Linked DNA regions of Homo sapiens. The protein of the gene in region 4 purifies or fractionates together with the protein of the main gene of each other region. This does not show direct contact. Each region holds a gene or a part of one and is shown on either strand. Other genes may lie near its edges.

Evidence for each region.
Region 1: the proteins of PTH2R (region 4) and ACAD10 purify together in Homo sapiens (co-immunoprecipitation; 2 studies listed by BioGRID and IntAct, with this or other methods). This does not show direct contact.
Region 2: the proteins of PTH2R (region 4) and NCAM1 purify together in Homo sapiens (co-immunoprecipitation; 2 studies listed by BioGRID and IntAct, with this or other methods). This does not show direct contact.
Region 3: the proteins of PTH2R (region 4) and FASTKD1 purify together in Homo sapiens (co-immunoprecipitation; 2 studies listed by BioGRID and IntAct, with this or other methods). This does not show direct contact.

The regions. Positions count from the first base shown.
Region 1 is NC_000012.12:111,752,029-111,757,608, reverse strand, and holds the end of ACAD10 (acyl-CoA dehydrogenase family member 10), read right to left. Parts: intron 3,838-5,580; coding exon 3,694-3,837; intron 1,942-3,693; coding exon 1,864-1,941; intron 1,277-1,863; coding exon 1,136-1,276; 3' UTR 510-1,135; downstream 1-509.
Region 2 is NC_000011.10:113,272,395-113,278,944, forward strand, and holds the end of NCAM1 (neural cell adhesion molecule 1 isoform 2 precursor), read left to right. Parts: intron 1-538; coding exon of another isoform or gene 539-1,354; exon of another isoform or gene 1,355-1,507; intron 1,508-2,872; coding exon 2,873-2,993; 3' UTR 2,994-6,042; downstream 6,043-6,550.
Region 3 is NC_000002.12:169,542,856-169,549,888, forward strand, and holds part of FASTKD1 (FAST kinase domain-containing protein 1, mitochondrial), read right to left. Parts: intron 3,850-7,033; coding exon 3,363-3,849; intron 1,981-3,362; coding exon 1,866-1,980; intron 1-1,865. UniProt on the Homo sapiens protein: Involved in the down-regulation of mitochondrial MT-ND3 mRNA levels which leads to decreased respiratory complex I abundance and activity.
Region 4 is NC_000002.12:208,409,770-208,416,802, forward strand, and holds part of PTH2R (parathyroid hormone 2 receptor isoform 1 precursor), read left to right. Parts: intron 1-5,750; exon of another isoform or gene 5,751-5,817; intron 5,818-7,033. UniProt on the Homo sapiens protein: This is a specific receptor for parathyroid hormone. The activity of this receptor is mediated by G proteins which activate adenylyl cyclase. PTH2R may be responsible for PTH effects in a number of physiological systems.

The DNA.
Region 1 (5,580 bases), on a different chromosome or scaffold from region 4:
GCAGCCGGGGGGGATGGTTCCTGCCCGTCTGGTCTAACCTGAGACGAGTTTTGGCTACCCCACCACGAGTTATGAGACGAGCAGGCTGGGGCCTCACTGCCCCTGGCTCACCTCTGCATGTCGCTGGGTTTCTCAAGGAGCTCAGACTGCAAGTGAGTAAGCATTTCCACTCTCCTCAGAGAAGAGAGATTGTGCTCCAAAGTGTAATGGCGAATGGGCCACCACCTCCCCTTCGCCCAGATATTCTGACTATGGAGCAGGTGGAGGCTGCAGGGGCCTCACATGCCAGCTCCTGGGTAAAGTATGTATGAGCACAGAGCCCCGGGCTACATAGTGAGGGAAGGCAGCCAACTCGGGACTTATCGGACCCGTGGCCTCTGTGCTCCCAGCATGTATGGGGCTGAGATGATGGCCTGGACCTCGAGGAAACACAGGCAGGAGGAGGCATGAAGGCGCTGAAGGGAACCTCTCCACTCGATTCTCTTTGTATGACACAGAAAGTCCACAAAGCCTCCGAGATGTGTTTACTTATTCTTCTGTGTCCCCAAAACCCCTTTCCAAAATAACATTTAAATGATTGTTCTGTGCTGTGTGTTCAAATGGAGATAATCAGATGCCAGTGGCTTTACAATGTGGGTTGCATTCCATTTTCCCAGGCGCCCAGGTCCTGGGTCTCTAGGCCACCGCCCGCCGTGGCCGCCCCTCTGCTCACCAGGGAGGCCAGACAGGAACCCTGCAGCTGCCAGAGCAAGCACGTCCCACAGCCTTGGGAGGCCTCCCAAAATGTGTCCAGATTCCCACAGGCAGAGAGAGAGGGACTGAAAGGCTGAAGTGAAGTGACCGTGCCTGCCCAGCCTGGGACTGAGAGCCTGAAGACCAGCTTTCCAGACTCTGTCCCAGAACCCCCTTGGCCCTCAGCAAATCCCCTCCTCCTGGCCTGAAACAGACTCCAGGCTTCTTGCAGAGACGTCTTCTGTGGAGAACCAGAAAGATTGAGTCCACCCTGACTGTCCCGGGACAGAGCTGCTGAGCAGGGTGCAGGAGCCACAAACACCGGATCTTTCGAGGCACATCAGTGACAGATCTGGGCACAGCTGGACCAGCCAGGACATTGAGCCACTGCAGCCCCAAGGCTCTAAATGCGGTGCTTCAGCTCTAGCTTGGCCACCGTGGCCCGGTGCACCTCGTCAGGGCCGTCGGCAAAGCGCAGGGCTCGGGCCCAGGTGAAGAACTGAGCCAGTGGGTAGTCGCTGCTCAGGCCTGCTGCTCCAAAGGCCTGGCAGACACAGAGTGGAGGGAGGCGGCCCTGGGTCAGCCCTTGTCTCCGAGAGCCCCAGGAATGATAGCCTGCTCTTGATGGCCCATAACAACCATCTTCCCGGACTTCCCTGTGGCACCTATGTGATACAATCACTAATATTCCAGAGGGCTTCCATGGGGCCACACCTGCCATCCCACGGCCTCCAGACTCCCCAGGCCCACTCTGCAGGTGCCTTCTGCCCTGTGCTGGGGCCGGGGGTTAGGATCTAAGGAGGCGGCCCCCCTGCATGGGAAAGAGCCTGGGCTCTGGGCTTATGAAAACCCAAGTTCATGTGAATTTGAGGTCAGCTACTTGCAAGCTCAGTGACCTGGACAAGTCACTTCACTTTTCTGTGCCTGTTTCCTCACATTCAAAATGGGGGTACGATGGCACCTCCCACCTTGCTGGGTCATTCTGAAGAGGAAAAGGAAAGTTGCATGCATGGTGAGTGGGTGACACAGGGCATCTGCCAGGGTCTATGGGAGGCTGGGCGGCTGAAGATAGGAGAGTTTGGCATCTAGTATTGATGGTTCAAATAAGCCAACTGTCTGGTCTGTGCTCACCTGAATCGCACGATCAATCACTCGGGAGGCCATGGACGGGGCGACCATTTTAATCATGGCTATATCCAAGGCTGCAGCCTGTAAGGAGGAGGAGATGCGATCATAAAAGACCCGAGGGCAGCCTGGGTGGCAGAGTGAGGCCCCCCCGTCCCCCATCTCTACTAAAAATACAAAAACTAGCAGGGTGTGGTAGCATGTGCTTGTAGTCCCAGCTACTCAGGAGGCTGAGGTGAGAGGATTGTTTGAGTCTGGGAAGTTGGGGGCTGTGGTAAGCTGAGATTGCAACACTGCACTCAAGCCTGGACAACAGAGTGAGACCCCCTCTCAAAAACAAACAACAGGCCAGGCGCGGTGGTTCAGGCCTGTGATTCCAGCACTTTGGGAGGCCGAGGCGGGCAGATCACCTGAGGTCAGGAGTTTGAGACCAACCTGGCCAACATATAGTGAAACCCAGTCTCTACTAAAAAATACAAAAATTAGCTGGGCGTGATGGTGCACACCTGTAGTCCCAGCTACTTGGGAAACTGAGGCAAGAGAGCTGCTTGAACCCGGGAGGCGGAGGTTGCAGTGAGCCAAGATTGTGCCACTCTACTCCAGCCTGGGCCACCGAGTGAGACTCTGTCTCTCAAAAACAAAACGAAAAACTAAACCACAAAAAAGACCCGAAGGCAGAAAGCCTGGAAGAATGATCAGATTCCCAGCAAGAAGTCAAACACCACCGTCCAAAACAGAGGCCCCAAGGTCTCGCTGATGTGAGCTGGGTGAGGCTGCCCCTGCCTGGTGTACGGCTTGACAGCACCCAGGGATGAAGGGCGCCATGTTGGCAACTATTATCTTATGTCACAAGATGCGAAGCAAGTGCTGGCAGAATGTGGCTGTCTTCCCAGATGACGGGGAACACAGCCAGCACACACTGAAGGGATAAGGGGAGGGTCCTGTGCTTTGCTCAGGGTCACGGCCAGCTCTGCCTCCAAGCAGCAGTGGACCAAGGCCACTCAGGGCTCTGGGAAACCGAGCTACAGTGATCTGCCCTGGGGCAGGGTGTTCAAGGGAGACACCCAGCAGCCTCCACCATATCTAGCACGCCAGCGTCAAAGAACCAGGAACTGTGAGCATGAGCATGGGTTGGTCCCTGATGGTTGAGGGTCTTGGGTGGGGTTGGAGGCTGCCCCACAGAAAGCTGGACAAAGCAAGGTCAACATGGCATTGTGCTTGGTCATCACAGGCACTTAGAAAGAGCCTTAGTTAGCCTGGGCAACATGGTGAGAGCCGGTCTCTACAAAAAATAAAGAATTAGCTGGGCATGGAGGTTTGCGCCTGGAGTCCCAGCTACTTGGGAGGCTGAGGCTTCAGTGAGCCATGATGTACCACTGCATTCTAGCCTGGCTACAGAGCAAGGCCCTGTCTCAAAAAATAAATAAATAAAAGGTTAAAAAGAGCCTTAGTGAATGACTAATGTCACACTTGAAAATAAGCTTCTATTTTTGTTAATTCAATATTCAGATGAAGGCCAGCAGAGGGTCCCTTTTCCCTGCCTTACTCTTAGGTTGCCCAACACCTCCACCAATGGCCCTGGGAGTCCAGGGCCACCCAGGGGCCCTGTGGCCCCATCAGACCCACTGCCTTGGACTAAGCAGCTCACCAGGTCAGTAAAACACAAAGGCCAGTCCTCTCTTCTTGTGCCTTTCCAATTTTTGAAAAACTGCCCAAACAGCTCCAAGTAGAGGTGAAATAAAGTTTCTAATGTCAAGAAGCCAGGCTCTCATGCTTTGCTGAGTGAGGAGGAAGAATCTCTGCCTCTGGGAGGCCCCCTCGTGCCCCTGCCCCTACCTTGTTTCCTGCCAGGTCCATGAGGTGGGCAGCTCTCAGCACCAGCAGCCGTGCCTGCTCAATCTCCACGCGCGACTGCGCGATGTCCGCCAGCACTGTGCCCTGCTCCACCAGGGGCTTCCCAAAAGCCAAGCGGGACTTCACCTGTCGACACAGGAGATGTGCGGCTGAGGACATGCTGGGCTGGGGGTGGCCACGAGAGGCGGGGGCTGGTGGCCTGCAGAGCTGGGTGGAAGCAGACAGGACAGGGCAGGGGAGGAGAGTGAAACCAGGACTGTGCATCTTCTCAGCCAAGGTGCCTGTGTGCAGCCATGCGCCATGTCCAGGGAGTAGGTCTGACACACAACCTTCACGTGTGCCACAGCCAGCCACAGCCCACAGGGTGCCTGTAACAAATTGCTTCCAAGAACCCTTTATTCCAGCCATTGCACATCTGGGCAGGCCTGGCTACCAGACAGGAGCAGTTATAGATCTGAGCCAGCATCTGACCCAAGGCTACTCCTGGGAATGAGGGAGTGACTGCAGGCACTGCACACGGCGCAGGCGAAGGGTGCCCTCTGCTGACCGCAGCACCCCTTCCTGCCCTGCAGCTCCAATGGGAGCAAGGTCCCCTCAGCCCCGTCTCGCTCCCGGCCTTCCGCCGTGGGTGGCCTTATCTGCAAGGGGGATTTTAAATTCTGAAAGTCACAAGGCATCAGAAAAGGTTCTAAGTATTCCTTTTTTTTTCTTGTTTTATTTATTCTTTTTCCTTCTTTTTTTTATTATTTTTTTGGAGACGGGGTCTCACTTTGTTGCGCAGGCTGGAGTGCAGTGGCGTGATCTTGGCTCACTGCAACCTCCGCCTCCCGGGCTCAAGCAATCTTCCTACCTCAGCCACCTGAGTAGCTGGGACCACAGGCAAGAACCACCACATCTAGCTAACTTTCCAATTTTTTGTAGAGACAGGGTCTCACTACATTGCCCAGACTGGTCTCAAACTCTTAGACTCAGGCAATCCTCCTGCCTTGGTCTCCCCAAGTGTTGGGATTACAGGCATGAACCACCACACCCAGCCTAGTTTTTTTTTTTTTTTTTCACTAAAAACAATCTACACAAATAATTTATCTCATGGCAGAAAAACTACCTGTTTTCAGAACAAAAAAAGAGAAGACAGTAAGAGCACCTAGAATCCCACCATCTAGTCACCACTAGTTAATATTTGGTGGATATTCTCCTCTATCCTTCTATAGTTTTTTTATATATACTTATTTTTTCCAAAAACGGGAGCCACACTCTATATATGGTTTTGTAGCCTTTTTGTTTGTTTGAGACAGAGTTTCGCTTTTGTTGCCCAGGCTGGAGTGCAGTGGCGCGATCTCGGCTCACTGCAACCTCTGCCTCCCGGGGTTCAAGTGATTCTCCTGCTTCAGCCTCCCAAGTAGCTGAGATTACAGGTGCCTGCCACCACACCTGGCTAATTTTTGTATTTTTTTAATAGAGATGGGGTGTTTCATAATTTTGGCCTGACTGGTCTTGAACTCCTGACCTCAGGTGATCTGCCTGCCTTGGCCTCTCAAAGTGCTGGGATTACAGGCATGAACCACAGCACCCGGCCAGCCTGCTTAAAACAATAACAACAACAACAACAACAACAACAAAACATTATTTTGCATCAAAGCTAACAGCCTGTTTTTGTTTGTTTTTTTTTTTCCCAGACAGGGTGTTGCTCTGTTACCCAGGCTGCAGTGCAATGGCACACTCACAGGTCGCTGCAGCCTCGACCTCCCAGGCTCAGGAGATCCTCCCACCTCAGCCTCCTGAGTAGCTAGGACTATAAATGTGTGCCACCACACCTGGCTACTTTTTTTTTTTTTTTTTGAGACAGAGTATCGCTCTTGTTGCCCAGGC
Region 2 (6,550 bases), on a different chromosome or scaffold from region 4:
TCAGGGAACCACAAAATCTGTGACTGGAAGAACCCACAGCTCCTATGAGCCATTCTGAGTACTCGTGATCTGCCTTATTCGTGACTTTTCCCATCGGTGCCCTGGGGAGCCCTGCAGGACAGCTGGGCCCAGTTCCTCTGGGACCTGGGAAGCCTAGAGCAGGTGGATGCTGAACAGAAGCCTGCCCCTCCTTGAATGGAGATCCAGGGCAGGGATCAGGAAGCCCTAGGCAGGTCTGCAAGGACTTCAGGGAAAGGGAGCTCTATGCAGAGAGCTGGAGAGACATCAGCAGGGAAGGGCTAGCAGGTCCCTTTTGAGACCGCCACGTTCTCTGTCGTCTCCTGTGTCCTCTTCTGCCCACCTGGGCGTGTGCTTCCTCTCAGCATCCTTCTCTCTCTGTGGGCCTGTGTCCGTGCCTGTGCCTAACTGCATGCCCCCACCCCCATGGTCCCTGTCCTGGGCTTCAGCCCTCCTCCTCGCTTCTCTGTCACGTCTCAGCTTCATTGTCTATTCTCTTCTACTTCCTGTCCTCCCACAGGCTGCCTGCCGACACTACGGCCACTGTCGAGGACATGCTGCCTTCTGTCACCACCGTCACCACTAACTCTGACACTATCACCGAAACCTTTGCCACTGCTCAGAACAGCCCCACCAGTGAGACCACCACCCTGACCTCCAGTATTGCCCCGCCGGCCACGGCCACGCCTGACTCAAACTCTGTACCGGCTGGCCAGGCCACCCCTTCCAAGGGGCCCAGCGCCTCTGCCCCCTCCCCGGCCCCAGCTTCAGCCCCCAAGGTCGCCCCCCTCGTTGACCTGAGCGACACCCCGACCTCAACCCCTGCCGCTAGCAATTTGTCTTCTAGTGTCCTGGCTAACCAAGGGGCTGTCCTCAGCCCAAGCGCCCCTGCTGGTGTCGGGGAGGCCTCTAAGGCTCCTCCGGCCAGCAAGCCCACCCCTGCACCAGTCCCCACCCCGACTGGGGCAGCCAGTCCTCTAGCAGCAGCGGCTGCCCCTGCCACAGAAGCCCCTCAGGCCAAGCAGGAGGCTCCCAGCACCAAAGGCCCGGACCCGGAGCCCACCCAGCCCGGAGCCGCGAAGAGCCCGGCCGAGGCAGCCACAGCCCTTGCTAGCCCGAAGAGCGAGGCTGCCTCCGTCAGCACCACAAACCCTTCCCAGGGCGAGGACTTTAAAATGGACGAAGGGAACTTCAAGACCCCAGATATTGACCTTGCAAAGGATGTTTTTGCAGCCCTGGGCTCTCCTGCTCCCGCCGCTGGGGCCAGTGGACAAGCCCCTGAGCTTGCTCCTTCCACTGCAGACAGCTCTGTTTCGCCTGCGCCAGCAAAGACCGAGTACGGCCTCTCTTTGTCTGCTGTCATCGGGTTGTGTCCTGTGGTGGTGTGCATTTGTGCTGTGCTGTGTCCTCCTTGTTAGATGTGTCTTCAGCCTCATCCAGGGCTTCTCTGAGGCGACCGTCAACCAAGGGGCTGGGATAAGGCAGAGAGAGCAGGACAGGCAGCTGGGCCCCAGGAGCAGCCGCCTGCTGGCTAATTAGGCCATGTTAATTATGTTTTATCCTTATCATCCTAGCAGCGGCTTCTGTTTTCCCTGGGGGAGCCCTTGCAGTCAGGCCACTGATGAGAATAGCTTGGGAAGCAGGCTAAGAAGGCCAAGGTGCCCTTATCAGCCACCCTGGGGCCCCCAGTCGGTGTGTTATTCAGTGCCAGGCTGAGTCCCTACCAGAAAGGCACTGATGTGCAGGAAGAAAAGAGGTAGGCCCCAGGCCCGTGGCAGGGGAGGGTGCAGTTCAGAGGTCCCCTCACACTGTGGCTCAGATGCTCACCCTCCCCTCCCAACCCCGGCCCCCAGCCCACTCTTGCTTCTCCTGCTCTTAGAGTGGCTGGGAAGACTCGGGGCTCCCCAGCATCAAATGGCTGCTGGGTCTCAAAGTTCAAGAGAAAGGCCTTAACCTTTCAGGTTTGTAAGTGTCTTGCCAAAATTCAGTGGCACCAGCTGAGGCTGGGGTCTGTGCCTGTCCCCATGCATCCTCAGACCCGACTCCCTTTCCTGGAACTGATGGAGGCAGAGTCAGACCTAGATTTTTATAGAGGCTCCTATGGCTGCTCCCCAGATAAGCTGCCATGCTGCCACCATGGGCTGCAAGGGGCTCTCGCCAGGAGCCCTGAATCTCAGCATCGGGAGGGAAAAGGACTCTGATAGCCCTGCCCACTCAGCTGCCCTCAACTCTCGCATAGCCACCAGGCCCACTCTAGTACCCCACCAGGCTGCCATGAAAAGCTGCCTCCATCAGTGTTTTCTCACCCTACCCAGGCAGGCCCTAGAGGCATCATCCTGCAACAGCACAGGGTGGGGTGGGGAAGGGACAGGCAAGAGTGGGTTGCAAAGGGGCCCCTGAAATCAGTGCTGGGAGCCCAGCCCAGCCCAGCAGGCTGCATTTACATCCAGCTGAGCTGTTGCCACTGCAGCTGGTCAGGGTGAGGAGGAGCTGCCTCTGCTGCCCCCTTCCACCACCCCAGGTAAAAACACAGCCTCTGGCATCAACTTAGGGCTGGAAGAGGAAAGGACTCGTTCTTCTGACTCAGTGCTTCTCAACTATGGCTGCACATTAGAGTCACTTGGGTGCTTTTAAAAGTCACTGTGTCCGGACCAATTAAATCAGGATTTCCGCGAACACAGCTCGGGCTTGGGTGATTTTTAGTGCTCCCAGGTGATTTGACGGGCAGAGGTTGGAGCCGGGTGCTGTCACTGGAGAACCCCTCCTCCTCCCTGCTGTCCCCAAGGCCTGGATGCAGGGGCGAGATGTCTGCAGACCGTGGTCTCAGTGGTTCTGTTTTCCTGATTCTCTGCAGGAAGGGCCCCGTAGAAGCAAAGCCAGAGTGCCAGGAGACAGAAACGAAGCCAGCGCCAGCCGAAGTCAAGACGGTCCCCAATGACGCCACACAGACAAAGGAGAACGAGAGCAAAGCATGATGGGTGAAGAGAACCGAGCAAAGATCAAAATAAAAAGTGACACAGCAGCTTCACCAGAGCATTTCCAACACCACAGACACACACACGCACGCACACACACAAACACACATGCACACACACACATCTCATTTCTCTAGTGTCTTTTGCCTTTAAAAAAAACTAAACAGATAAAACATGGGAATCTCCTTTTTGTAGGTTTATAGAAAGGGTCCCTTTGTTGCACACTCACTTGTAAGAAAATGAGACAAAAAGGTTAAACCCACAGCCAAACTAGGACACTCCGTTCCCTGAAACCGTTAAAAAATCAAACAAAAGGACCCCAAATTAAGAATCTAGGAAGCTCAGAAACGAAATCTAGGTTCAGGAAGACCACACTTGGTGTTACCCGATTGGCACAGACCAGTTTCAGAGAAATACTTTCAGGCACTAAGACTAATCGAATGAACAAAGTCCACAGTTTATTTTTATACTTTCAGTCAAGTTTGAACTCTGTAAAACCTCATAAATAAGTTATAATTTCTGTTCACTTTGTATTTGTTCAGTATGCAAAGTGTGTCACCCTTTCTAGCTGAATTCAATTCCCACGTAGACTCTTATTTTATAGGACGAATGCCAAATTGCAGCTTCTGGGGGTAGATCTCAATTTGCAGTATTCAGACTTCTTTTTCTTTCTTTTACATTCTTTTTTCTTTCTTTCTTTCTGCCAACTTTGTTTTCCAGTGTTTACAAGGTGACAAATGTTTGACTTTGGTTGTGTTTAAATGTCCGTGTAAAATAGCTGCCTTTTATTTTTTAAGGTAACAAATACCACCTAGAGGTAGGTAGGATCATCCCACGCTTGCTTTAGCACAGGACAACTTTACAAAACATGATTGTTTACAGCTGCTCTTCCCCTCTTTTCTGATCTGCAGTTTTTGCCTGGGTCCCACTCAGGTGAAAATCCATCTCATTCTGGAATGGTTTTGCTTTTGAATTTTTGGTTATTTTTGTGTTTCTTTGGGGGTTAGACCACTTTCTGATTAGCCGCCACCTGCCTGCATCTGTGAAAAGGGATCTGCTCCCAGGCGTTCTCACCCTTCTTTTGAAGGACTCCTTAGGCTTTGTTGAATGAAGCAGAGAAGATTGTATAGTTGGGGCTGGTCTTGGTGAACACACATTATTACCCCACACATCCCCTTTGTGTAGAAAGCCAAATAAAATCTATACATACCATTTCCTTTTGAGCCCAGAATCTAGATTTGAGCGGAAGAGCATGTGTGCTTCAGGGAATTAGTGTCTTTTTTTGGAAATCTGTTGAAGTAAAGTAACATCGGCCTTCTGTTCACTTAGGCAGCATTTATAGAAACAAAAGAAGAAAGAAACAACCTACTGTCTGGAGTCATAACACAACTTTCCTGGATTGGAAACCAAGTGGGGGAAAAAATACAGAAACTTTAAGGGGGATGGGAGGGGGGGGAGAAGGGAAAAGCCAGCCCTTTGTATAGAAATTTTGCTTTTTTTTCCCTCATTCTACTTTAGAACTGCAAGCTTGTGCACTGTGGATGCGTGAATATTTTAGTGTGAAACGTGTTTTTGTCATAGTATTGAAATAAAACTTCAACATAGTTTGGTTGTGGAAGGTATAGCAGATAGTTCAGAAAAAATATTCAGGAAACAAAAATCACTCAAACGGAATCGAAGCCTTTTAACAAAGAAAATGAAATACAGATGATGATGATGATGATGAAGATGATGCTAAGTAAACAGAAATCAGTACTCCGCATGCGCTCCTCTCCTAAGGTACAAAGCAGCAAGAGGTTAGGGTGGCAAGGCTGCCTCTGGGTCCATTCTGTGGGCCACTCTCCCCAACGTTCTGACACTTCTGCAGTCTGATCAGTGGCGATGCTAGATTATAATTTCAAACTGTGAAGAATAATGGTCTTGTCATTTGCTCAATGTGGGGTTATGTTGCATTTTCTCAGCTCCTGGGGATGGAAATGGAGGATCCCAGAACACACAGCCCTGGCCCCTTTGATTCTAGGGCCTGCACAGATCTCTGGTTCAAATGCACAGGCCCTCAGAATAGAGGAACATGAAGAGAGATCTTAGAGCACACAGTAGAATGTGAGAGCCTGGGTGTCTGAGACCGGGAGGGCCCAGCAGTGAGGGGCAGGCTCTTCTGGTCACCAGGCTGTTCAGTGGACTCAGTTCTTCATCTTGTAATGTCGATGGCTTTGCCACACCAGGCCAAGCCCATGCCATACCTTGTCAAGACTGTCAAAGTGGTTGTGGTTAGGTCAAACTGGTTTTGGTTCTGATGGTTAGGAAGAAACAGGTCAGCCCTCAGATCACCTGGCCCGGGACAGCTGACCCCCTAGAACCCTGGCTCTGCCATTAGCTAGGACCTAAGACTCTGCCCACATTTTGGTCTGTTCTCTCCCATTACACATAGGTTTGTCTCAGCATGCAAGAGTTTTTCCTTTAAAAAAAAAAAAAAAAAAAAAAAAAAAGCAATGCTTTCTCTAAAATCAAAGAGGGAGTCATTTTATTCCAAGATGTTTTATCTTTTATGTTAAGAGATCAAAGCTTATAATTTTCTTTTTTAATTTTTGAAGGAGGGATCAACTCCAGTTTCCAATGTCTATGTGTCTATGTGTGTATGTGCCATACATATGTATTCACATGAAGACCGGCATGGCCAAGTTCTGCTGGAGGAGCACTCAAGTGTGACGAGCAGGGCCACTGGACCCTGCAGGGCTGTGGTGTATATAGTGCAGCTTTGGAGGTGGAACTCTATTTTCACACTTTTCTATGGAGCCTTCCGAGTCCCAGGTTTTCACTTGAGGCTGTCTGTCTGGATGGCGGTTTTCAGACCTCCATTAACATCCCTACCCAGCATTCTGTACTTCGGGGGCCTTCTCTCTTGTTATAAAACTTTTTACCAAGTGAAACATCGATACCACCTTTGTTTCCATTCTCACTGGTGTAAATACTGAGTACTAACTGAGAATTTTGACTTTGCATTCTGTCGGAATACTTGTGTTCAATAAAAATTGAAAGAAAAAAGCTATTATGATCATACTGGGGTTTATTTCAATGCGGTGAGAGTCTGTTATGTGCATCAAATGTGGACATGCGTGTGGTAGTTCCTTTAGGACCTTGTGTGCGAGGAAGGTTAGCGAAGTCTCAGTGTCTTGAGTTCATGTGTTGCCTGAATGATGCTTTCTGTATTTTTTCTCACAGGCTGATAGATGAGAGTCCTAATTTAGAAGGGGCAGACGTCAGATTCAGAAAGGTTTCCTTCGAACTCTGGTTCTGCCGCTCCCCGGTTGACCTTGAAAGAGTTGCTTAATCTCCCCAAGATTCAGTTTCCTTTTCTGACATACAGGAAATACCAAGAAAAGAGAGTTAGTTAGGGTGCTGGTTGATGAATGAAACAATGTACATGAAGGCCTAGTGTCTTCTTTCTTGGCACACAGTGGGAACTCAATCAGCGGGAGTTGGCGCTGTTGGCATCCTGGGTGTGCGATACCATCAGACCTAATCGTAGTAATAGTCAACACCTGAGCTTCAAGATT
Region 3 (7,033 bases), about 39 Mb from region 4:
AAAGAAAACCAAAATCTAAATAGACAGAAACAATCAGACATTATGTGCCTCCAGATGTGATCTAAATATAAGGTATACAGCACTACATACAAGTTATTTTTGCTGCAAATGTTTAATCTGAACCTAACCAAGCATCTATACCTAATTTCTAGTTTACTACAAATGCAGGAGATGGAGAAGCAAGTTACAGGAAAACAATCAGACAAATCCAGAATGTGGCACAATTTATAAGAAATGGCCAATCATTTTATAAAAATAAATATCAAGCAAAAAAGATGGAGGAAAAGACATAACTACTCAATGCTGGTTGTTTAAAAAAAAGTTATAGCCAGGCACGGTGGCTCACATCTGTAATCCCAGCACTTTGGGAGGCTGAGGTGGGTGGATCACCTAAAGTCGGGAGTTCGAGACCAGCCTGACCAACATGGAGAAACCCCGTCTCTACTAAAAATACAAAATTAGCTGGGCGTAGTGGCGCATGCCTGTAATCCCAGCTACTCGGGAGACTGAGGCAGGAGAATCGCTTGAACCTGGGAGGCGGAGGTTGCAGTGAGCCGAGATTGTGCCATTACACTCCAGCCTGGGCAACAAGAGCAAAACTCTGTCTCAAAAAAAAAAGTTATAAAAGATAATTTGGTGACTCGGGAAAATTTGATTACGGACTAGGTAGTAGATGGTACTTGTTCATTTTCTTTGGTACTGGTAATGATACCAGTATTGTAGTTACATAGGAGAACGTCCTTATAACCTGAAGTACACAGAGCTGACAACTGGAAGGTTCATCATACGCATACGCGCTTGTGCACATACACAGAGCAAATGTGGCAAATGTTAATCAATACTCAATCACGACTGTGGGGCTACAGTTCATTATTATACAGTTTATTATTATACAGATGTTTGTTGTATTGTTCAATTTTTCTGTATATTTGAAAACCTGGATAACAAAAAGTTAAGAAAAAAAAAAACCAAGTCAATGCCAAGAAAAGAAAAAAAGGAAACAAAATTCTAAACTATAAGAGACTGAAGAGATAACAACCAAACACAATGAGTGAATACTGGGTGCAAAACAACTACTCTAAAATGTATTTTGGTAACACTTAGGGAGACTGAAACATGAACTGTGTATTAGATATTAGGGGACTATGATTAAGTTTCTTAGGTGTGGCAACAGTATTGTGGTGGTACAGAAGAATGTCATTATTCTTAGGAGATGTATGCTAAAGTAATTAGGGATGGAGGGTCACAATGACTACAACTTTGAAATGGCTCAGAAAAAAATAAGAGAGTCAGAGAAACAAACGGATAAGGCAAACACTGTAAAATGTTAACATTATTGAATCTACACGGTGAGTATATATGTGTTCTTTGTTTAATTCTTTATACAAGTTTGACATTTTTCATAATTAAAATGGATACAAAGTTTTTATAGGGCCGGGCGCAGTGGCTCACACCTGTAATCCCAACACTTTGGGAAGCCTTGGCGGGTGGATCACCTGAGGTCAGGAGTTCCTGACCACCCTGGCCAACATGGTGAAACCCTGTCTGTACTAAAAATGCAAAAAATTAGCCGGGTGTGGTGGCACATGCTTATAGTCCAAGCTACTGGGGTGACTGAGGCAGGAGAATCACTTGAACCCAGGAGACAGAGGTTGCAATGAGCCAAGATCGCACCACTACACTCCAGCCTGGGCGACAGAGCAAGACTCTGTCTCAAAAACAAACAAACAAACAAAAAACCTTTTTTTAGGTAGATAATTCATGTCTATTATGGTTACCCTTTAAATGAGGGACATCTCCTAGCTCAGCAGCAACAAGTATCCTCTGACTTATTCACTCAATGTATTACCAAACAATATACCTACCTAAGTAAGAATTAAGATGTTGCACGCAAGTTCCCAAAAATTCATCCCTTTGAGGTGGATCATAGTTCAATACGCTGAATGGACGAATAATAGCAGGGATTGTAAAAGGATGGATCTGTATAAAAAGAACAAAAAATTTATAGTTTAAACTTTAGGAAAATAAGACAAAATTTTAACCTAATTATTTTTTAGGAGAAATCTTTTCCTATCATCGCTACAGTTAAATAATAAATGTATCACCCTGCTTATTAATTTTTCCATCCTGCTATAATTTATTTAACCCCACCAACATTATTAATAACCCCAAAAGTGTTAATGTAACAAAAAAGAAGTAAATCAGATAATTTACAAATTTATTTTGTTAGGTGTAAAATTCTGTTCTGGCTGGGAGTGGTGGCTCATGCCTGTCATCCCAACACTTTGGATGGCTGAGGTGGGAGGATTGCTTGAGGCCAGGAGTTCGAGATTAGTCAGGGCAACATAGTGAGACCCTGTCTTTATTTAAATTTAAAATAAGTAAATAAATTCTGTTTCAGAATTCATTAGTCACTAAATTGAATAGGAAACAGTATCAGCAATTTCCATGATAATCAGTACATTTTATAGAATAATCATAATTAAAGAAGTTTCTTAAATTATAATCACTAGCATTTATTTTTCTTTCATTTGCTTTTTTATTTCATTTTTCACTCATTCATCCAATACTTAATGACTTCCAGGCACTATACTAAGCAAGTTAAGACAAACTTTTTATTTTCATTTGTGAGAAACACTGTCTTTTAAATAAAGGCCTTGCCCTGATATATTTATGATAGTGATTTTGTAAGTGAGCTGCTTCTCACATAATCCATAAAGCGGCATTTTACAAGTCCCAGAAATAAATCTGCAAGAAGATGCAATGACAGTTTAAGAATATAGTTGCCAATGGATACCTTATAATTTTCTCAGTTTTCAAGCTTATCTCACACTTTTGAATATAATTGTTTTTAAATGGTAAAAATAATACCACACGATTACAGAAATAAGAAAAAGTAAAACCAAAAATCATTCATACTCCACTGTCCTAACATGAGTATCCTCAAAGAATTGATTACTAATCTTAATACTGTAATGAACCAAAGAATGATTGCTGATCTTTCCAAATCTACAATGCCGGAATGAGAAAGTGACTTTAAGGAGAGGAACAACAAATCGCTGAAATAGAAACCAGAGTTTTCTTTGTTTTTCTTAAGAGACAGGGTCTCACTCTGTCACACAGGCTGGAGTGCAGTGGTGCAATCATAGCTCACTGAGCCTTAATTCCTGGGCTCAACCAATCCTCCCACCTCAGCCTCCCAACCGCTGGAATTACAGGCTTGAGCTACCACATCTGACCCAGAATTTATTTAATTTTTAAACCTCAAATTCCAATCCAAGTTCTCAAAGTGCCTATGATAAAAATTATGCTTGCAGAAGTTGACAACTCTATAAAATTAATGTCTACCATTTAAATTTCACCTTTTCAATCTGCTGAACAGCCACTGAGGCTATCCTATCTAGTAGCAAAGTACTGAGGTAATCAGTACTAGAAATAAAAGATGCAATCTCCCCAACATTTATGTAATTAATATCATCCATGAAATGCTGTAAAGTAGCAATCATTTCTTCAAGAAGTGACTCAGGAAACGTGTTTCCTTTGAGAGATTTAAGTTCCTTCCGTAACAGATCCAAACTGTTGCTGTGTTGTAGTCTCTGACGACCATAGTGATCTAATTTTTGAAGTAGTTTCAGTTGTTTCGCAGTCATATTATCCAAATACATGTGATCATGCTGAATCCATCTTAAAACAGATGTGGCAAAACTACTCAGGTTATTTAGGTCACACTGTGGTAAAACGGCTTCAATTCGGGATATCCCCACTTCGTCCAAGTGAGGAGAAGGGAGCAGGGAAATAGCACGGACCAGAACAGACACCTCAGTTGGTATGAAACTATTTTTCAAATAACTGCAAAATGAAAAATGAAAAGAATACATCAGCAACAAACCCAAAATATATATGTATTAAAATATGAATACATATGAGTACAATTAATAGGTAAGATGATGATTCAAAAAAACCTCTTTCAAACTATGTTTCTCCTCTAATCTCAAACCACAACAATCATCAACCACAGAAGACTTCTGTGACCAAATGTGTGGGAGTTCTTCCAAGCAGCGGATACCAACTGGGTGTCCAATTCAGTTCTGACACAATCTACCTGGGGACAGTGTCAGATCCCACAGGTTGGGAACTTGGTCTCTAAGACTAACCTCTCCCACAAAAACCCCAGACTCCACTTGCAAAAGTAGGCCTCCAGAACTTCTGAGCAACCGGCTTCAAGTTGGGTTTCCCATGACCTCCTCTTTGGGTTTGATTAATTTGCTGGAGTGATTCACAGAACTCAGGGAAGCAGTTGTTTATGTTTACAGGTTTATTATAAATGATATTATAAAGAATGCAGATGAAGGGACAGTAGGGTGAGGTATGCGGGAAGGGGTGCAGAGCTTCCATGCCCTCCCTGACCATGCCACCCTCCAGGAACCTCCACGTGTTCGGCTATCCGGAAGCAGTCCAAACCCAGTCTTCTTGGGTTTTTATGAGCTTCGTGACATCAACATTTCCTCACACAGGGTGTAGGGTGGGATCTCTCAGGGGAGCGTCTTAAGACCCACGATCAGAAAGGTGGAGGGAGATTAGAGTCCTGCTTTGGGGCAGGAGAGAGATTCTCTTTCCAGAGGCCTAACATACCCAACATTGTTAACAAAAGGCTATAGCAAGAGCTATAGAAGTTATGAACTAGTAACTAGGACAAAAGCCAATATATATAACATCACAGGTGGGCATAATACAAGTTAATTTAAGAAGAGTTAGATAGGCCAGGCACGGTGGCTCATGTCTGTAATCCCAGCACTTTGGGAGGCCAAGGACAGGGGTTCGAGACCAGTCTGGCCAACATGGTGAAACGCTGTCTCTACTAAAAACACAAAAAAATTAGCTTAGCCAGGCATGGTGATGTGCACCTGTAATCCCAGCTACTCAGGAGGTTGAGGCAGGGGAATCTCTTGAACCAGGGAGGTGGAGGTTGCAGTGAGCCAAGATCGTGCCACTGCACTCCAGCCTGGGCGACAGAGGAAGACTCCATCTCAAAAAAAAAAAAAAAAAAAAAAAAAAAAAAAAGAGTTTGATAAATTCAAAGATGACAGGTCCATAAAGGATTATTCAGGAAAGCCTAAGACTTCCTGATGCCCTCCGTCTCAAAAAAAAAAAAACAAAACAAAAACAAAAAGAAAAGAAAAGAAAAAAAAATCTTTAAGTATAGAAATAGTGGAAGGAATAAAGGAATAAAACAGGAAGACCTGTTCTGAAGCACAGGCCAAAATTTTTTATTCAAAAATAAAACCACAGTCCCAGGGAAACAAAAGGTCCATGTCAGAACAATGTTTCCAGTGCTGTCGCTGAAGAAAGAACTTGGGTTCAATTTCTGATATCACCTGTCAGGCCCTGGCATGCAGTGATCACGTAATAAAATTGGTTCCTTTTTTGTTTCCGATACACAGTCCAACATTTAAAACAAATGAATAAACAAACAACAACAAAAGAAACAGGACATAGTTGACCTCATTCTCTACTTCATTCCGAAATCCCCATGGCAAGAGTCCCACCACCAGGACAATAATTGTTAAAAAAAAAAAAAAAAATTGAAAAACTGGGGCCGGGCATGGTGGCTCACACCTTTAATTCCAGCATTTTGAGAGGCCAAGGCGGGGGATAGCTTGAGCTCAGAAGTTCGAGACTAGCCTGGCCAACATAATGAAACCCCATCTCTACTGAAAATACAAAAAATTAGCCGGGCGTGGTGGCACATGCCTGTAATCCTAGCTACTGGGGAGGCTAAGGCATGAGAATCGCTTGAACCCGGGAGGCGGAGGTTGCAGTGAGCCGAGATCACGCCACTGCACTCCAGCCTGGGTGACAGAGCAAGACTCCGCCTCAAAAAAAAAAAAAAAAAAAAAAAAACTTTAGGTATAGAAGTAGTGGAAGGAATAATACAATCTAAATTAAAACAAAATTGAGGCTGGGCGCGGTAGCTCACTCCTGTAATCCCAGCACTTTGGGAGGCCAAGGCGGGCAGATCACGAGGTCAGGAGATCGAGACCATTCTGGCTAACATGGTGAAACACCGTCTCTACTAAAAATACAAAAAAGAGTTAGCCGGGCATGGTGGTGGGTGCCTGTAGTCCCAGCTACTCAGGAGGCTGAGACAGGAGAATGGCGTGAACCCGGGAGGCGGAGCTTGCAGTGAGCCGAGATGGCACCACTGCACTCCAGCCTGGGCGACAGAGCGAGACTCCATCTCAAAAAATTAAATAAATAGCTGGGCGTGGTGGCTCACGCCTGTAATCCCATCCCTTTGGGAGGCCGAGGTGGGCGGATTACCTGAGGTCGGGAGTTCGAGACCAGCCTAACCAACATGGAAAAACCCCGTCTCTACTAAAAATACAAAAAAGTTAGCCAGGTGGGGTGGCGCATGTAATGCGCTGTAATCCCAGCTACTCGGGCGGCTGAGGCAGGAGAATCGGTTGAACCTGGGAGGCGGAGGTTGCGGTGAGCCGAGATTGTGCCACTGCACTCCAGCCTGGGCAACAAGAGCGAAACTCCATCTCAAAAAAAAATTAAAAATAAAAATAAATAAATAAATACATTGAGTTACTTTTAAAATATTTTTTAAATTAATTTTTTTCTGGAGACAGGGTCTCACTCTGTTGCCCAGGCTAGAGGGCAGTGGCGTAATATAGCTCATTGCAGCCTTGACCTCCTGGGCTCAAGTACTCCTCCTGCCTCAGCCTCTCTACACACTGGGGATATAGGTACATGCCACCACGCCCAGCTAATTTTTTGTTTTTTGTTGTGGAGACAGGGTCTTGCTTTATTGCCCAGGCTGGTCTTGAACTCCTGGGCTCAAACAATCCTCCCAGCTCAGTCTCCCAAAGTCCTGGGATTACAAGCATGAGCCACTATGCCTGGCCATTTAAAATATTTAAATTAGCATACTAAAATAATCGTAATATTAATACTCAGTGTTAGCAAGGGTGTACTGATACAGGCATTCTCATTCACTATTAGTAAACTTAAAAAGTTGGTGTAACTT
Region 4 (7,033 bases):
CATTACAGAGCCCAGCAATGCATTTTCTATAGTCAGATTATCACATGGTAATGAGGACCACTATATAAACATGTTCAGTATTTTCTTTACTGTGTTAGTGGATCCTCCTGGTAACAGACTGTAGGATGGAATTGGGGTGCTAGAGGTTTATTAGGGGAGGAGGTAATGCTTGTGAAAGTTGAAAGGGAGAGGGAGAAGGATTGGACAGGGGTAACCTCAGACCGGCAAGCAAATCTGACAAAATTTTTTCCAACTCAAAGGAGAACCTTGGGGGAAAGGTGCCCATCAGAGGAGTCCCATGCTGCGAAAAAATGGCCAGGTCTTAGAATTCCTACTGTTGACCTTCCAGCATGAAGATTCAGAGCCTACTAGAAAATCAGAAATCTCTTTCTAGGTGTGGAAAAATGGTAATCAGTAATGCTACTTGCCAAGTACCAAATACTGTGCTAAGTACTTGATTCTCTCATTTAATTATCACAGTAACTTTATGAGATGGGCACTGTAATTGTTCACATTTTTATAAATGAGAAAATGGGGCTATGAGATGTTAGATAATATACTCAACTCACACAAGCAGCCATGATTTATACTCTGACTTTTACCTCTGGGGCCCACCCCTCCTACTGGTACCCTCATTGTGGAGATCAGCTGGGCACTGCTTAGTGACATTATGTATACACATGTCCTCTGTCCCAGCAATCTCCGCCCCGAGTCTCTATCCCAGGGAATTTCTCACCCAGGTCTATAATGATTCTTGCAGTAATTCTGTGGTGTTAGAGAATTAGGGGCAATCTGGGTGTTTATAATGGGGTATTGTGTAGCAATAAAAAGCAATGGCTTAAATGTGCACAAATCAGCATGGACAAGATCGTAAAAACAGGATAACATGTGACAGAAACAATAGGATATATGGTATGATATCATTTACATACATTAAAATACATGCACATAAAACAGTAATATATGTTTTATGAACATATTCAGATAAAAGATTGTGTGTGTGTGTGTGTGTCTTACATAAATGCTTGTATATGGGAGGTAGAGAAGTAGGAGTGGGGTATAGACATAAAATGGGATAAATCAATAAATCAAGTAGGCCTGCACTCTGCATCTCAACGCATGTGTTAATTACAAATTGTGGTGATAATAAACAGAACTGTCAAAACTATTACTGATGGAGTTAAGAATGAGGACAGCCGGGCACAATGGCTCATGCCTGTAATCCCAGCACTTTGGGAGGCCAAGGCGGGCAGATCACTTGAGGTCAGGAGTTCGAGACCAGCCTGGCCGACATGGTGAAACACCGTCTCTACTAAAAATACAAAAATTAGCTGGGCATGGTGGCACACGTCTGTAGTTCCAGCTACTTGGGAGGCTCAGGTGGGAGGATCGCTTGAACCCTGGAGGCAGAGGTTGCAGTGAGCTGAGATCATACCAAGTCCTAGAATATAGGCAGCTTCTCCAAAGTGGAAACTAGGGACTGTCTTTGGCAGAATGAAATGGAAACTCAACATTTGATTATCTCTATACTGTGTTTATTGCCACAAACACTATTGTAGTTAAAGATAAGAGAGTTGGTTTGTTCTCATTCTTTTCTCTTGACAACGAGGACTATTTCCATTTGTCTTCTAGTTATAAGGAAGCCTTAAATCCCTGAGGAATGGGCTTCCTGGTGGCTGCATTAATTGTGAGTAGTCTCTTCAGCCCTGGTAGACCAGAGGCAGTGAGATGGAAGGGTCCCAGGTGTGGCTCTTCCTTGCCAATGCACAGAGAGTAGGTTTCATATTCCCAGAACTTCCTCAATTCTTTGTGACAAAATAAAATATTTTCAGCAGGCATTCATGCATCTCACTTATTTTCCTGTCTTGAACTTCAATTGGTTTTGTCATCTACTGGAACCCATCTTGTCCTTTCTTTCCCCTCTGTTTTGTTTTTTTCTTTTCTCTGGGTTATTCATTAAATTTTTAAACAGCCGTGTGACTTTAGTCGTTAATTTCATCTCTTGGTTGTCTCCACTGGCTCCACTGTAAAATAGGACTTACTCATAGAATAAGCATTATAGTGACATCTACTCATAGAATGTGAGTCTTGAATTAAACATATACAAACAAAAAGCTTAAAGGTGCCTGATAACAAAAGATGTCAGCTCTTTCCTCTTCTTTTATTAGCAGATGAGTTAAGTTATTTTTAATGGAATGATTACTAGATTAAGATTATTTCTAAGCATTAGTGAGAACTCCTGAAGGCTTTTAAATGGGGTGTGTATGTATGTGAGAATTTTGCGAGGCCATTTTCTCTTCCTTTTATTTCTTACGGCTTCTTCTTCAGAACCCACATTTTTTCTGATAGCAATTGGACATTTTCTTCATAACACTGATAGCTGTTATAATATTACATTTATTAATATAAGTACTTGATCAATATCTAACTTCCTCATTGCTTTTGCTCAAAATTTGTTTCCTTCTTGCTGATGGATATTACCACTTTACTTTTCCCAGTTGTTATTGTCTCCCAGGATCGCACAGCTGTGCTGCATGACAGATGTGTTGCCTAGAGGGAGTGACACTAGTTAGAAATGAATAGAACATTGGCCACTGCTGCTATTATGTGTAGATCTATAATTTGGCCTTCAGCCTGATTTTCTGTAATCTCAGATTCTCATTGCCAATTGCTGGCAGGAAACAGTCTTCTTGATGACTTGTCATGTCCAAAAACAGGTCAACACTATTTCTAGAGTGATAATCATTGGCTGATTTCATTTCCCCATGAAATGAACTCCATCACTGAGTAGAGCTGCCATAGAATAGCCTTGAAAGGCAGAGGTAGTGCTGTGTGAGGACACTGTACTGGGAGATAGGACACCTGGCTGTAGTCCACGTTTTACTATAAATTAGCTGGGTGGCCACAGATAAGTGGCAAAATTATGGGTCTCATTTTATCATGTCAAGAGTATAAGGTTTAGAGTTCCAGCATACCAGAGATTCATATTTTTTCAGGTTATCAACAGAGCTAGCTTTAAAGAGTGTTTTTACTATATACATATAACAGGGATCAAAAGCAGAAACTACCCACATTTCTATTTAGTCTTTGTCTATGTGCCTATTCAATTAATATATACTTTCAATTATGTCATAAATGAAATTTTATATATATTTTCACTTGACATTATACAATCCACTTTTTTCCATTTTCCTATGACTATTTTCCTGTCTTATGTACTCATTCTCTTTCTCTCTCACTACTGTCCCATCTCCTCTCAATCCCACTCAGATAATACTGTGTATCTTCCACCTCTTTCTCCATAATTTATTTGCTCATATAAAATATAAACACAGATGTAGTTATTTCATCTTTATTTGTTTAAAAAGTGACCACACACACACACACACACACACACACACAGAATGTTTATAAACAATGTAGAAGACTGGCAATTTGAACTCATTAAATTATATTACAAATGACAGAGAGCCACCACTTGAATCTTGAGAAAGTGATCCTCCTTTCATCTTGGAGTGTTATTATCATGGTATGTGCTCCCCATGTGATGCCACTCTAGCAATTTCAGACACAGCTACATAGAAGTCATGATTACAGAAACTCCAAGAGCCAACCTTACCAGAGACAGCATTTGACACTATCAAGTGTCACTGATGTACAGAAAGAAAAATTGGGCTTTAAGGAATGAAAGTGTAAAAATGATTCAGTGCTCAGGAACTATAAAGTGAGTTACTTCAAAATGGAATTTGAGCTCTGTTATGATTTCAATAGTGCAAGAACTACACTTAATTATTCCTGCATTAACCATTATTTTTATATTTTTGAACATTTTTAACATATGGAATGTAAAATATTGACTAAATGGAACATGTATTATTTTTACATTCTTGAAGTTTTCTATGTGTTGCTGAAAACCATTTATTTATTTGTATTACCTAATTAGCCACCTTGAATAATGTTACAACTAAAAGTGTAAGGGTTGAAGAAGGAAGAAAGAAACACAAAAAGTGGCTCAACAGTCAAAGACAGAATAAACCTGAGACGGGCTTCTGGCCAGTTTTGGTCAGGAGCATGCTCTCTTGCAGACTAAGAGTATTTAAGGGTTCAGGGTGGGAGAGCTTATCACAGGCTTGGACTGCTTCTGTGCCTCTTTGTCTTGCTTATCTGGGAGGGAGAGTTTTTGTGTTTGTTCCCGTACATCTTCCTGTAGCTGCAGGCATATCCCCCACGTCTGCTTTTAGCTTCCCTATCTTAGTGCACCTAATGGGAAAGGAATATGCTTACTAGGGCCCACTGTTTTACTGGGGCTCATTGTATGAGTGTGAAGTTTGGTGGTTACTCAAGAGACTTTCCCCCTCCTTCTGTGCCCAAGCTGTCTTATCTTTGTTTTACTGTCTGCTCTTTCTGGTTGCTTGTTTAGAAGAGAAGTGATTTCCTTGAAATGCTTGAGGTTAGAAAGGGAGCTAGAACTTAAAATGGTGGTGTTTGTCCAAGATGACAGTGCTCCTGCTCTGTCAAAAGCAACTAAAAGTGGAGTTTAATATAATAAAAGTTTAATATAAAAATATAATTTAATAAAAGTGGAGCCCATTTAATATATCTGGTGACAATAGTAGTTAATGATATTTTTGTATTCAGTCTTGTGCATGTGTAGATATAATATATCCTGCATGGTTACATTCCTCATAGTATTCCCCCAAGTTCAATAAAAGCAATAACCATTGTACTATTTCTTTTTCTGTTTATCTTTTGAGTCCTTTGTCAGCTAATGAGGATAGTGAATTTTTTTTCAGTTTTTTTTTTCTATTAGAATATCTATTAGAATAAGTAATTTTGGGTTGATACATCCTCAGTTCTCAAACTTTATTCCAAAATTTTTATCCACTAGAACAAAAATGGACAAACTATGGTCTGCTAACCAAATTCATTCCATCATCTGTTTTTCTATGCCTCATAAGCTAAGAATGATTTTCACATTTTTAAGTCATTGAATAAAAATCAGAAGAAGGATCGAGGTTAACATTAAGAGTGAAGTCATGTTGATAGCTTGCACTCTTGATAGGTGAGTGGCACTTTACCTCTGTGGTCTTCCCTTTCAAAACATATTGGCCCAGTTCCATAATGAGAAAACCATAAAAAAAAACCCAGCTGTGGAACAAAATGTCTGACTAGTGTTTCTCAAAACTATTAAGATAAATAAAAATGAGGAAAGCCTGAGAAACTATCACAACCTAGAAGAACCTAAGGAGACATGACAACTAAACATGATATGGTGTCTTGATGAGACCCCAGAACAGACAAAGGACGTTAGGTAAAAACTAAGAAAATCTGAATAAAGTATCAGCTTAGTGAATAACAATAGATCAATATTGATTCATTAATTATGACAAATATACCTACTAATCTAAGATTTTAATAAGGGGAAACTGAGTGTTTATGGGAACTCTGTACTATCTTATATAAATAAATTTTTTTTCTGTAAATCTAAAACTATTCTAAGATTTAAAACATTTAAAAGGGGATTTTATTGTATTTTAAAAGGACAATATTTTGTAAGTGTGAAGATTAAATAAAATTAAAATTTCAGTGTTCATAAAATTTTATTTGAACACAGCCACATTCATTCACCTACTACCGCTTCGCATGGCTGTTTGGTGCGTTCTGAATTGCAGTGACTCAGTCATAACTTGACATATTTCAAGTGCTACATGTATTGCTCTACATTTTCACTTTACTTTTTTCGCTACCAGGGAGAACCCATCATGTCAAAATAAGAAGAGAAAAATGGACTAAATATTCTGCTTCTAAAGGCATAGTGTATGTGGATTTTTTTGCTATCAAATAAAATGGAAAAGCATTGTGTTTATTATTCAGTGATACTACAGCTGTGCTAATATAATACAATATATGTTGTCATTCCCAGATTAAGCAATCATTACAGTATTCCCAGCTGATAGCACAGCATTCAGTCAGAAAAAATTAGAAAATTTAAGATGAGATATCACATAACTTCTTTTAAAAAATGAGGCTGCAATAAAAGTAAAGTTCAAAGTAAGGTTCTCATTTGTTAGCTAAGCGAGGAAAGCCATTTACCAATGGTGAATTAATAAATGGGTTAAATCATGTTTGATTGTAGCAGGCATGAAATGTGTCTAGAGAAAATAGCTAGTTTAAAACTACTTACCTTTTGAAAAGAATAGAGTTGAGGATGTTGTAGCAACATCAATAATCAATTAAAAAACAAAGCAAATGATTTTAAGGGGTTTTCCTTGGCCCTTGATGAGTAATATCAGTAACATTTGTTACTGATATTAATCAGTTGTTTATCTGAGGAGTCAATGCTGAGTTTGGTTTACTGAAGCGTTTGCCTTGAAAAATAGTCTGTGTGGGAGAACATTTTCAAAGAATTTGAGAAAATGACTAATTTAGTTCAACCTGAAGTGGAGTGTGCTAAGACGTGTTAAAAATGATGGTGTTAAACCTTTGTGTGGAAGACCAATCAAAAGCTCATGAAAATATAAAGCATTTAAAATCAATGGTTATTTATTGTATTATTTATCTGCAAGCACTTTGTAGGAAATATTTGAATATATCATGTGTTATTGAACCAATAATGTCAATGGCCAACTTTGTTCACCCTTACGAACTTAATTATCATCAGTTCTTTAAATTTTTGTCAGAAATAGAAGCCGCATACTTTGACTTGCCCTACTATGGCTTAGCCATGATAAAGCTTACTATGATTTTTCTGAGCTCAGGGTTAAAATGTTGAAATTAGGTGAACTACTTTTTCAAGCTATCTGCCGTTCTGTATGTGATGGTTAATACTGAGGGTCAACTTGATTGGATTGAAGTATACAAAGTATTGATCCTGTGTGTGTCTGTGAGGGTGTTTCCCAAGGAGATTAACATTTGAGTCAGTGGGCTGGGAAAGGCAGACCCACCCTTAAGCTGGGTGGTCACAATCAGCTGCCAGCATGGCTAGAATATAAACAGGTAGAAAAATGTGAAAAGAGAGACTGGCCTAGCCTCC